Regions from separate parts of the Homo sapiens genome. Here region 2 is linked to region 1. The links come from fine-mapping of genetic effects on gene expression. A gene starts in region 1. The other region holds a variant in brackets. All regions are shown on one strand. Distances are between the middles of the regions. Region 1 holds the start of MRTFA (myocardin related transcription factor A). Region 2 overlaps MRTFA (myocardin related transcription factor A).

Evidence for each region. PIP is the estimated chance that this variant, and not a neighbour inherited with it, causes the effect. A credible set is the group of variants that fine-mapping cannot tell apart.
Region 2: its variant is the best candidate, but not a certain one, in a credible set for the expression of MRTFA in whole blood (TOPMed, PIP 0.88).

What each region holds. Positions count from the first base shown.
Region 1 is chr22:40,634,492-40,639,868 of GRCh38, forward strand. It overlaps MRTFA (myocardin related transcription factor A), which reads right to left and starts at 2,228. Exons shown (of 15, transcript NM_020831.6): 1 at 1,987-2,228. RefSeq lists a silencer at 1,683-1,992 and enhancers at 2,253-2,562, 3,302-4,501.
Region 2 is chr22:40,460,601-40,465,977 of GRCh38, forward strand. MRTFA (myocardin related transcription factor A) reads right to left here. Exons shown (of 15, transcript NM_020831.6): 4 at 2,621-2,686. Among named protein-coding and RNA genes, the nearest start is that of MRTFA-AS1, 59 kb to the right of the region's middle. RefSeq lists an enhancer at 2,949-3,058. The variant T/C (reference allele first, on the strand shown) is at 2,400.

The DNA of each region.
Region 1 (5,377 bases):
CATACATCCACAGGAAAAGCTCCCTTGACTCTCCCAGTGAAGTCTGGATTTAGAGTGTATTTCAGCGCGTTACAATCATCTGTCATTTTTTGCCTCTCCCACTAGACTGTGAGCTCCTCATGAGCAGGGACCATATCTCACTTATCTTGACAGCCCCAGCCCTTAGAAAAACACCTGGCACGTTACAAACATGGAACAAAAAGTCTGTTGAATGAATAAATGAAGTCATCCCTTAAGTAGTACTTGTAATTACTAACGGGTGACCCAAACTTTATGGTTTTGCCCTTTATAGGCTGAGATTCTATTTCATACTCTTTTTAATCACTCCCTAATAGCATCTGGCAGAGTACTAAGGACATGGAAACTCTCCAATAAATACTTTTGGGTGATGGGATACATATTACTCTTCCACCTCTCTTGATTTGACTCTAAATAACTTATTCAAGTGGATGTGACTTTTGGAAGCCTTCTTAAAAACGGGCTCTTCTTAATAGTTATTGGCCAAAAACTGAAACAAACACTAGAGCTAAACTACAGATATTTTTTTCTTTGCAGGTGTTTTTAAAGAACGCAGTAATGGATTGCTTCTTTCTAAATCATTTCAATAAGAAACAGTAACATAAAGCCCTTTGGTTCGCTATGAAAAATGCAAACGACATTAAGCAAAACTTAGTTTAATAACTTCCAGCCAAAGGTTCCCCACCCTGCAGTCATAGGGCTGTGGGCCAGCTGGCTGTACCACCTCACCCCCGGGAGATGACTGCTTTTCAACAGTAAAACTGCGTAAGTGACATTTGGAGTTTTGGGGGTCTTCTGAAGTAAAACATGTAGGTCTAACTTCTTACTGACAATAAGTCTTAACGTTACAGGCTTCGGCTTGATGTAGAAAGGACCCTGAAAAGATCTCAAAAACTTGCAACTCGGGGACATTCCAGACGTCTTATGAGTTTAAAACTATGTAAAAACATACGAAGCATGGGGTAATTCCATTATTATATTTAAGTGATGTATTCCACATTCCTGTATATACACACACTTCATGCCAAACAGAGGCTGGCAAGCAAGTTAACCATTCAACTGCCCTTTCGTTATGCTGCATAACAGGGAGACAACAGAGAGAAATCTTGACAATGCCAAGCTGGGCTAGTGCTTAAAGGCACACAGGCAAACCAGGCATTCTCAACATCCCAAAAGCAAACATTTCTTGGGCCCTTACTATGGGCCAAGCACTGTGTCAAACGCTTCACGTGAATTATTTCATTCGACACTTACAACAAACAACCGTATGCGATTGGTGCTATTATCCTCATTTTTCAGACGAGGAAACCAAGGCACAAGATTACACAGCTAGCAAGTGGCAGGTTTGGGAGTCGACTCAAAAGGTCCAGCCCTAGGCACTATGGAGTATCAAAGGTACCCGAAGCGGGGAGGGTGGACTGCATCAGCGTCCTGACAGACGCTTTCTTAGGAGGTAAAGTTCTTGGCCATCAAGTTTCAGATTTGCAGAGCCCTGTACACCTGGCAGCATTCAGGTTTGCTATACTGGCACCAACAAGTCCAGCTGAGCCTCCTTGCCTGGGAATCCCAAGGACTGCACTTGGATCCTGAAGGTCTGCACAAGACCCCAGAGAAAGCGGCCGACACCCCGTCCCTGCAATCAAAACACATCCCGGGAGAAGCGAGGGCGAGGACCTCCGTGCCTCCCCGCCCCGCGCAGCACAGCCCTGCCAGGCAGTGCACAGGTGCACGACCGCGCCCGCCCGCCCGGCCCGGCCCGGGTCCCAGCCCCGGCACAGTGACCGCCGCTCTGCGACTCCGGCCCCGAGGGCAGGGGCAGAAGGCCGGCAAGAAGAGGGCAGGGGACGCGAGGGCCGCCTCGCCCGACCCCCCGAGGACGCGCGCAGCAGGGTCGGGGGGGAAAAAGGATGCTCCAGGCGGGGCGAGGCCGCGGTGGGGGAGGGGTCCCCAACCCGGACTCTCACTCACCGCCTCGCGCGGCTCCCGGCCGGGTTCCGCGGCTCGCCCCACTCCGGCTCTAGCCGCCCGCGTCTCCTCTCGAGGCTCACTGTCCAGCCCGGGCGCACGGAGCTGAGAAGTCGCCGCCAGCGGAGGGCGTGTGGCCAGCGGCAACCAAGAGGGTGGGAAAGATGGGACCGTCGCTCTCGCCGCCGCGGCCACCACAGACACTGCCGCCGCCGGCTCCTCTCAGCCACGGAAGCTGCGGGCCCGCCCACCACGCCCGCCTCCCGTCCTGAAGACTGTCCGCTGGAGAAGTGACGGCGGCGCTAGCCAATCAGAGGCCTGATCGGGGTCGTGATCGGCGGACTAAAGGGCGGGCGGAGAAGGAAGCGGCATGAAGAAGGCGAAAACGGCGGCCTGACTTCCTGTGACTGACGGCACGGCGCAGCCAATGGGCAACGGGGAGATGACCTCATCTCTGAGGAAAGTCTGGAACTGGCTGAGCTGCGGCGAGGGGGTTGGCGACGAGCCGGGGGCGGAGCTCTGGGCCTTAAAGAGGCCGCAGCCCTGTGGTCACCCTGTGAAGGGAAGGGCGGTGGACCCTGCCGGATCTTGCGAAGTTGCCAAGGGGTCAATGCCCAGGCGCGAGTAATTACTGCATTAATCCCAGACCCCATCCCGATTCTTGTCGGGGACTGAAGGGTCTCCGCCTGGGGCTCCGAAGTCGATCATTTCACATTCACGCTTCCCAAAACGAGACACAATAAATTCCGCTCTGGCCTGGAGCCTTGAATTCCCGTTACGGTCCCGCCCCGCCGAGGCCCGTCGCCTTGTTTCTCTGAGTCAGTTTCCCCAACGGTGAAAGGGAGGACGCTGACACCTGCCTGCCCCTCCCTATCTGCCGAGGCCGTGGAGATCAGCAGCAGCGAAAGCGCTCTGGGCTTAGAAGAGGAAAAGGGCTGCGTGAGCCCAAGAGCTTGCATCGGAAGGCTCCAGGAAGAGCATCTGCAAAAAAGAGGATTCCACGGGATGACCCCCGACAACTCTTGGAATTCTAAAATCCTATACCCTTGCCCGCACCCATTCGTGTAGTGAAGGGGCGCGCGTTAGGCGCAGAGGCCACACGCTCCGCAAGTGAACCCGGGCACCTCTCTGAACCTATTCCGGGCTGAGGGCGGGGAGCGGGTGGCTGCCCGATTTAAAAACATGTATATGTATGTGTATGTGTATGTGTATGTGTATGTGTATGTGTATGTGTATATGTATATGTATATGTATATGTATATGTATATGTATATGTATTATGAGTGAAGTCCATGACTGCAACAGGGAGAAAGGAGAAAGGCGAAAGGGGAGAGAGCAACAAGGTAAGCCAGGCCCACTGTGATGACAGCTGCGGTCATGCAGGCCCTTCGTATCCGCCTTCCTCCCCAGCAATGGGAGAGAGCCCAGAAAAGGAGAAATAACCCCAACTCGATGGGGTGGAAAAGGGGGAAGCGCTTTCCGGAAGGCTTCCGGGATGGGGTCACCAGAGTCAGAGGAAGGAGTAACAGTAGATAGAAGAAGAAGTGGTCAGGGGCGTTCTTCTAGGTTTGGGGCGGACCCGCGTGAAGATGCAAAGACTGAAAAGGGGCGGCTCACTTTACATTCCAAGGTAAATTCTCACTATGACCCCCTTTTCCCCATCAAAGGCTTCTGGGACTGCCCATGGGTGAACTCAGAGGGAGGGTAGGAGAGGGTGCTGCTCTATCCAATGGCGGCAAAAGTCAAAGTGGCCTTGGGTATTCCCAATTACTCACTATAAATCAGCTTCCAATGCCGGTCGCAGAATCTTGGAGTTAGACGGGATCCTCGTGGGCTCTTAGTCACACACACCTTCCCCAAGGCAAAAATTCTTGCACAAAATACCTGATAAAATTATTTATTCGATAAATATTTTTTGAGTAAGAACACTGAGGGGGTAAGCTAGATGAGATACAGTCACTACCCTGGGGGTGCTTACACCAAACTGGAGGATGCTAAGGCACGTACTGCGGTGACTGCAATGCCAGGCCGGTATCCCAGGTGACTAAAACAGGATGCAGGCCGGGTGCGGTGGCTCACGCCTATAATCCCAGCACTTTGGGAGGTCGAGGCGGGCGGATCACGAGGTCAGGAGACCAAGACCATCTTGGCCAACACGGTGAAACCCCGTCTCTACTAAAAAACAGAAAAAATTAGCTGGGCGTGGTGGCGGGCGCCTGTAGTCCCAGCTACTCGGGAGGCTGAGGCAGGAGAATGGCGGAACCTGGGAGGCAGAGCTTGCAGTGAGCTGAGATCGCGCCACTGCACTCCAGCCTGGGCGACAGAGTGAGACTCCATCTCAAAACAAAAAACAAAAACAGGATGCAGTCCGGGCGCGGTGACTCACGCCTGTAATCCCAGCGCTTTGGGAGGCCGAGGCGGGCGGATCACGAGGTCAGGAGATCAAGACCATCCTGGCTAACACGGTGAAACCCCGTCTCTACTAAAAACAGAAAAAATTAGCTGGGCGTGGTGGCGGGCGCCTGTCAAGTCCCAGCTACTCGGGAGGCTGAGGCAGGAGAATGGCATGAACCCGGGAGGCGGAGCTTGCAGTGAGCCGAGATGGCGCCACTGCACACCAGCCTGGGCGACAGAGCGAGACTCCGTATTTAAAAAAAAAAAAAAAAAAGAGGATGCAGAAGTGCGCCTCGGAGGAGAAAGTACCCCCACTGGAATTATTGGGGTGGGGCAGATTTCCCCAAAACATGACCAAGGTGGGGCATTCCAGATAGTACCCACCCAGACACAGCCCTCCTTAAAAAGCCCAGGTAATGAGGAGGCACAAGTGTATTTTATTAGTCACAGGAAAAGAGATCTGCCCATTCATGGCAGAGACTGCAGGCAACCTCACCGTCTCACAAATATCTCTATACTTTTTCTGGACAACTTAAATTGTATACGTTTTATATACTATATATAGACACATATATATTTTGTGTATATATAAAGGGTTAGGCTGGATGTGGTGGCTCACACCTGTAATCCCAGCACTTTGGGTGGCCGAGACCAGAGGATCACTTGAGGTCAGGAGTTCAAGACCAGCCTGGCCAACATGGTGAAACCCCGTCTCTACTAAAAATACAAAAATGAACCGGGCGTGGTGATGCTCACCTGTAATCCCAGCTACTCGGGAGGCTGAGGCAGGAGAATTGCTTGAACCTGGGAGGCGGAGATTGCAGTGAGCCGAGATCCCACCACTGCACTCCAGCCTGGGTGACAGAGTAAGAGAGACTCTGTCTCAAAGAAAAAAAAAGCCAGGCGCGGTGGCTCACGCCTGTAATCCCAGCACTTTGGGAGGCCAAGGCGGGCAGATCACGAGGTCAGGAGATTGAGACCATCCTGGCTAACACGGTGA
Region 2 (5,377 bases), 170 kb before region 1:
ACACTAAGTATATGATGTCCTTGGTGAAAGGGACAAGTAGATGAGAAACTGGGTAGCTATCTTGTTTCTCCACAGTATGGACTGGGAGGTTTGGAGTGTATTGTAAAGCACAGCATTGCCCTACCTGATCACATTGCTGATACAATGAACAAGCCACCTAACACTTTAAGAACTGGGGGTAGAGAGTCCTTCACTGGAGGGCCACAGAAGACAGCATAATGTAGGTAAATAGTCTGGCAGTGAACTGCAGTAAACAAAAAGATTAATTTGGGACTTAAGCTCCCTGGGCTGATGTTTAGGATAGAAATAGACCCCAAGCCGGGCAAGGTGGCTCACACCTGTAATCCCAGCACTTTGGGAGGGTTAGGCAGGAGGACCGCTTGAGCCCAGGAGTTCAAGACCAGTCTGAGCAACATAGGTAGACTCCATCTCTATAAAAAGTAAAAATAATTAGCCAGGCATGATGGCTCACACCTACAGTCCCAGGGCTATTCAGGAGGCTGAGGTGGGAAGATCTGCTTGAAAGCCAGAGAGGTGGACGCTGCAGTGAGCCATGATCATGCCATTGCACTTTAGCCTGGATGACAGAGCAAGAACTTGTCTCAAAAAAAAAAAAAAAAAAAAAAAAAAAGTTAAAAGAAATAGACCCCAGGCTTCTTACACTTGTTATAAGGTTCTCTTAGAAATGGACCCTATCACTATTGTGGTAGGTCCATTCTGACTTGCTTAAAAGCCTTCAATGGCTTCCCATTGCACTTAAAACCAAATCCAGCTGGGCATGGTGATGCACACCAGTAGTCCCTGCCACTAAGGAGCCTGAGGCAGAAGGATTGCTTGAGCCCAGGAGGTTGAGTTCAGCCTGGGCAACATAGCAAGACCCCATCTCTTAAAAATTAAAATGAAGGCCGGACACAGTGGCTCAGGCTGTAATCCCAGCACTTTGGGAGGCTGAGGCAGGAGGATCACGAGGCCAAGAGATCGAGACCAACCTGGCTCATACGGTGAAACCCCGTCTCTACTAAAAATACAAAAAAAAAAAAAAAAAAAAATTAGCCAGGCGCTGTGGTGGGCACCTGTAGTCCCAGCTATTTGGGAGGCTGAGGCAGGAGAATGGCGTGAACCCGGGAGGCGGAGCTTGCAGTGAGCCCAGATTATGCCACTGCACTCCAGCCTGGGCAACAGAGCAAGACTCCGTCTTAAAAAAAAAAATTAAAATTAAAAGCCAAATCCACCTCCTCCATGTGGGTGATAATGCCCTGGCTCTAGCCCTGCCCACCTTACCCATCTTCACTTGCCCCTTCTCTCTCTCCACCATGCCCCAGCCACACTGGCTTACTTGATGATCTCCAAACACACCAACTTCTGGCCTGCACCAGGCCCAGACACTTGCTTTTTCTTCTCTCTGAGCCCTCTTCCTGCTTTCTGAATGGCCAGCTTCATCTGATCCTTTAGATCTCAGCTCAAATCTTTCCTCTTCAGTGAGGCCTTTCTTGAACATCTTATTCGAAGTGACTCCATCTTATTCCTATTACTTATTAACACACCAATCAGTTAATTTACTTGATAGTACTTACCAGGCTCTGAACTTACCAACTGCATTTCAAGGTGATCCCTGCTCTGAAATTTCTTGTCTACTACTAGTCTTGCCCTTCTAAATATAAATCACCTGAGAGCAAGAGCTGGATTTATCTTGCTGCATCAACTATCACATATTAGGTACTCAAAGATTTTGAATGAATGAATGAATGAATGAATGAGAGCTAGGAAAATATGGTAGCAGTCAGCCAGCAGACAATGAGTTAAAGTGAAAAACATCAGTTCTCCCACCATGAAGCCAGAAGTTGTATGATTGTTTTTTGACTTACAGTGTATCCAAGTAGTGATAACATACAAACAGAAAAGAGAGCCTATGTTCTCTGCTGATGATTTAAAAAAGAAAGGTCCGAAAGATCAAAACCTCACCAGCTCCAGTTTCAGCTCCGTTTATAATGCTGTTGGTATTAAAGGCAAATTTCCTTACTTCTAACAGATTCCAAGGTTTGGTTTCATTTTTCCCCTAAGGGATGGACTTCTGCACCCACTGAGCCCGGTGCCGTGATAGCGCCATCAACGACTCTACTCAGCCATGCTCACGCCCAGGCCAGCCTTAGAGTATCTCAGGATCTCACTCTACATAAAACTGTGGTTGATTCAAAATACCAGAAAAGAGGTTTCTCTTCCTAAGAACCAGAACATGAAGGCAAAGCATATGGGAGAAGTGGTTCTTCCTCACAATACACCAGGCTCAAGATCTGCCCCTCCTATAAAGGGAAGTATAACAGAGTGAAAACTCTTTTAAAGGTGCAATTCCAAAGTAAAGGAAAATTCAGTGGCACCCTTTACACCTAATTTAAACCAGG[T/C]TTGACCCTTTAAACACAGTTTGTTTCACTGAACTTGATCAATTAGTTATCTTAACTATTTAGTGATTGAGCTCTAAACTTGGAAAGTCATGAGAAAGAAGAGAGTGGAAAATAAAACGCATCATCCTTGTTTTATGTTAGATGCTTCCCATGGCATACTCGGTGAACACAGCCATGTCCTAAAAGCAATCTACCAAATGCTGAGAGAGAGAGGCACTTACGCGGCATGATCCCTTGGCTCACCAGTTCTTCCCGGGTCCGGCGCTGCTGGAGTTTCAACTGTAGCACTGCAGGGCAGCAGAGAGAGAGGAGAGATGAGGGGTCAGTTGGGTATTCCACCTCAAAAAACACATTTTCAAACGCAAAAAAAGTCTAAAAACAGAAGGATGTAGTGTGAAAGAAGGGTCCCCTTGAAGTGCAACTGTCTGTAATTGCAGAAGTGGCCTGATACAGCAGAGTTTCCGTATTCTGCTGTGGGCGGTGAGAGGAAGTTGCGAAGGGTCTTGCAGGGCGATAACAATCCACAAAGCATCAGAGTCTTGCCTTTTGCTCAAAACCTCCAAAACACTGAGTCCTCCTCCTAAAACTTTTTTAAAAACACCTCTTCCAAACTCAAAATATCCTAACGAGGACCACCACCCAGCAAAAAAAGCTTTCCAGATGCTCTACGCTTAACAAATGTTTACCACCATAAGTATAGTGAATGAAAGAACTACTCACACAGATCAGGAAGTACTATTTGTAAACTCTTTTTCTTTTGTATCTAAAAATTATAGCCATTTCACCAAGCAATGCCTTTTTCTAGCCTAGAAAATATTTTACCGTTAATATGCCTCTGTTTTTCTTCTTTCTCTTCACTTAGAGCCTTTTCTGTTGAGGTGAAACAATTCAGCTAGATGACTCAAAGCACATCCGGGCTAGGGGAGACTGATGGGTGTTTCTCTTATTTTCACTCTGGCAATACTGCTTAATGAAAAAACTTAATAGGGATTTTTTTTAAGTTAAAAATCAACTATCAGCCAGGCACAGTGGCTCATGCCTACATGTAATCCCAGCACTTTGGAAGACCGAGGCGGGCGGATCACAAGGTCAGGAGTTCGAGACCAGCCTGGCCAAGACAGTGAAACCCCATCTATACTAAAAATACAAAAATTAGTCGGGTGTGGTGGTGCGCGCCTGTAGTCCCAGCTACTCAGGAGGCTGAGGCAGGAGAATTGCTTGAACCTGGGAGGCGGAGGTTGCAGTGAGCCGAGATCACACTACTCTCTCTCACTCCAGCCTGGGTAACGAGAGTGAGATGCTGTCTCAGGAAAAAAAAAAAAAAAAAAAAAAACAACTATCTTTCTTTCAAAAGCCAGTTAAACCTAAACGGTGTTACAACTACAAACTACACAGAATGACAATGGCACAGCTGTCATTCAGAGACTAAATGAGAAACTGCAGAGGTTGCAGTGAGCTGAGATCATGCCACTGCACTCCAGCCTGGGCAACAGAGCAAGACCCCGTCTAAAAAAAAAAAAGAAAGAAAAAAAAGAAAATGTTCAGAGGAGGAGGGTTAGGAGGATCCCACGGGCCAAGGAAAGCCTCCTTACATAATTAAGTCTTCAGGTGTAGGGGCCTTCCAAGTCACATCTGAGAGGAACCAGAATCTACTGGGAATCATCTTAATATCTGCCTTTTTCTATCCACAGAGTAGCTTTTAGGGAGGCGTCCAAGAATCGCAGAACCATAACCATGCGCCTGCCTACATCTCAAATTCAGTAGATCCAAAGCCAAACTTGTTTTCCTCCCAAAAACCTAATCCCCTTCCCATCCTTCTTACTTCTTTAATGATATCACTATCTTTCCCAGTATTTTTTAAATGTCTGGGCCAACTTCAACTCTACCTCCTCACACTCACACTCCCCTCTTATCAATTTTACCCTGCCATGTTTTCCCATGCTGCAGTGGTAGCTCCCTGGCTGTGTCCTTGCCTGTAGTGTCTCTCTCCCATTTCAAGTTATCTTAATCAAGCCTGGCCAGTTACTCTTCCTCAAGTACCGTGAATTTTTTCCTACCTCTTTTATTCACTTCACCTGGAAATGCCTACCCTGTTCATCTGAACTTCCCCACTCACTCCACAGCATTCAGTTACTCTAGGCCTCCTGTGAGCTACCTTTTATATGTTAGGGAAAAGTATAATATTTTGCCTTGTGTAATAGTAGCCCTTGAACATCTTACTTCTCCTACCAGTTTATAAGTTCCTGGAGAGAAGAGAATATCCCTTACTGATATATGTCCCCCATAGCACTTAATACATAGTAGGCATTCAACAATGGTTTCTTGTACTGAACTGGATCTCAAAAGGATGTTACAAACAGTCTGAGAAACTGAACCAAGAGGCTATTATTATTTTACAAATTACCATTGTTAAGAACAAAGCCTTGGAGAACTAAATCGATAAAAACAGCAGGAGCTACAATAATAGCTGACACTTATGACGCACGTACTCTGTGCCAGACACTGTTTTACATTCTTTTATATTTTAACTTACTCTTCCTAACAGCCATATGAAGATACATTTTGGTGTTTTATTTTTTGAGACAAGGTCTCACTCTGTCACCCAGGCTGGAGTGCAGTGGCATGATCTCAGCTCACCAAGGCCTTGACGTCCCTGGCTCAACAGATCCTCCCACCTCAGCCTCTGGAGTAGCTGGAACTATAGGTGCATGACACCATGCCCGGTAATTTTTTAATTTTTTTTTTTGTAGATACAGGGTTTCACCATGTTGCCCAGGTTGGTCTTGAACTCCTGGGCTGAAGTGATCTGTCCGTCTCAGCCTCCCAAAAGTGCTGAGATTACAGGTGTGAGGCACTATGCCTGGCCAAGATAGGTATTATTAATCCTATTTTACCGAGAAGCAAAGTGAGGCCCAGCAGGTTTAAGTAATACACCTAAGGCTATCCCACTAATAAGAGGTAGAACAGGATTTGGAGAC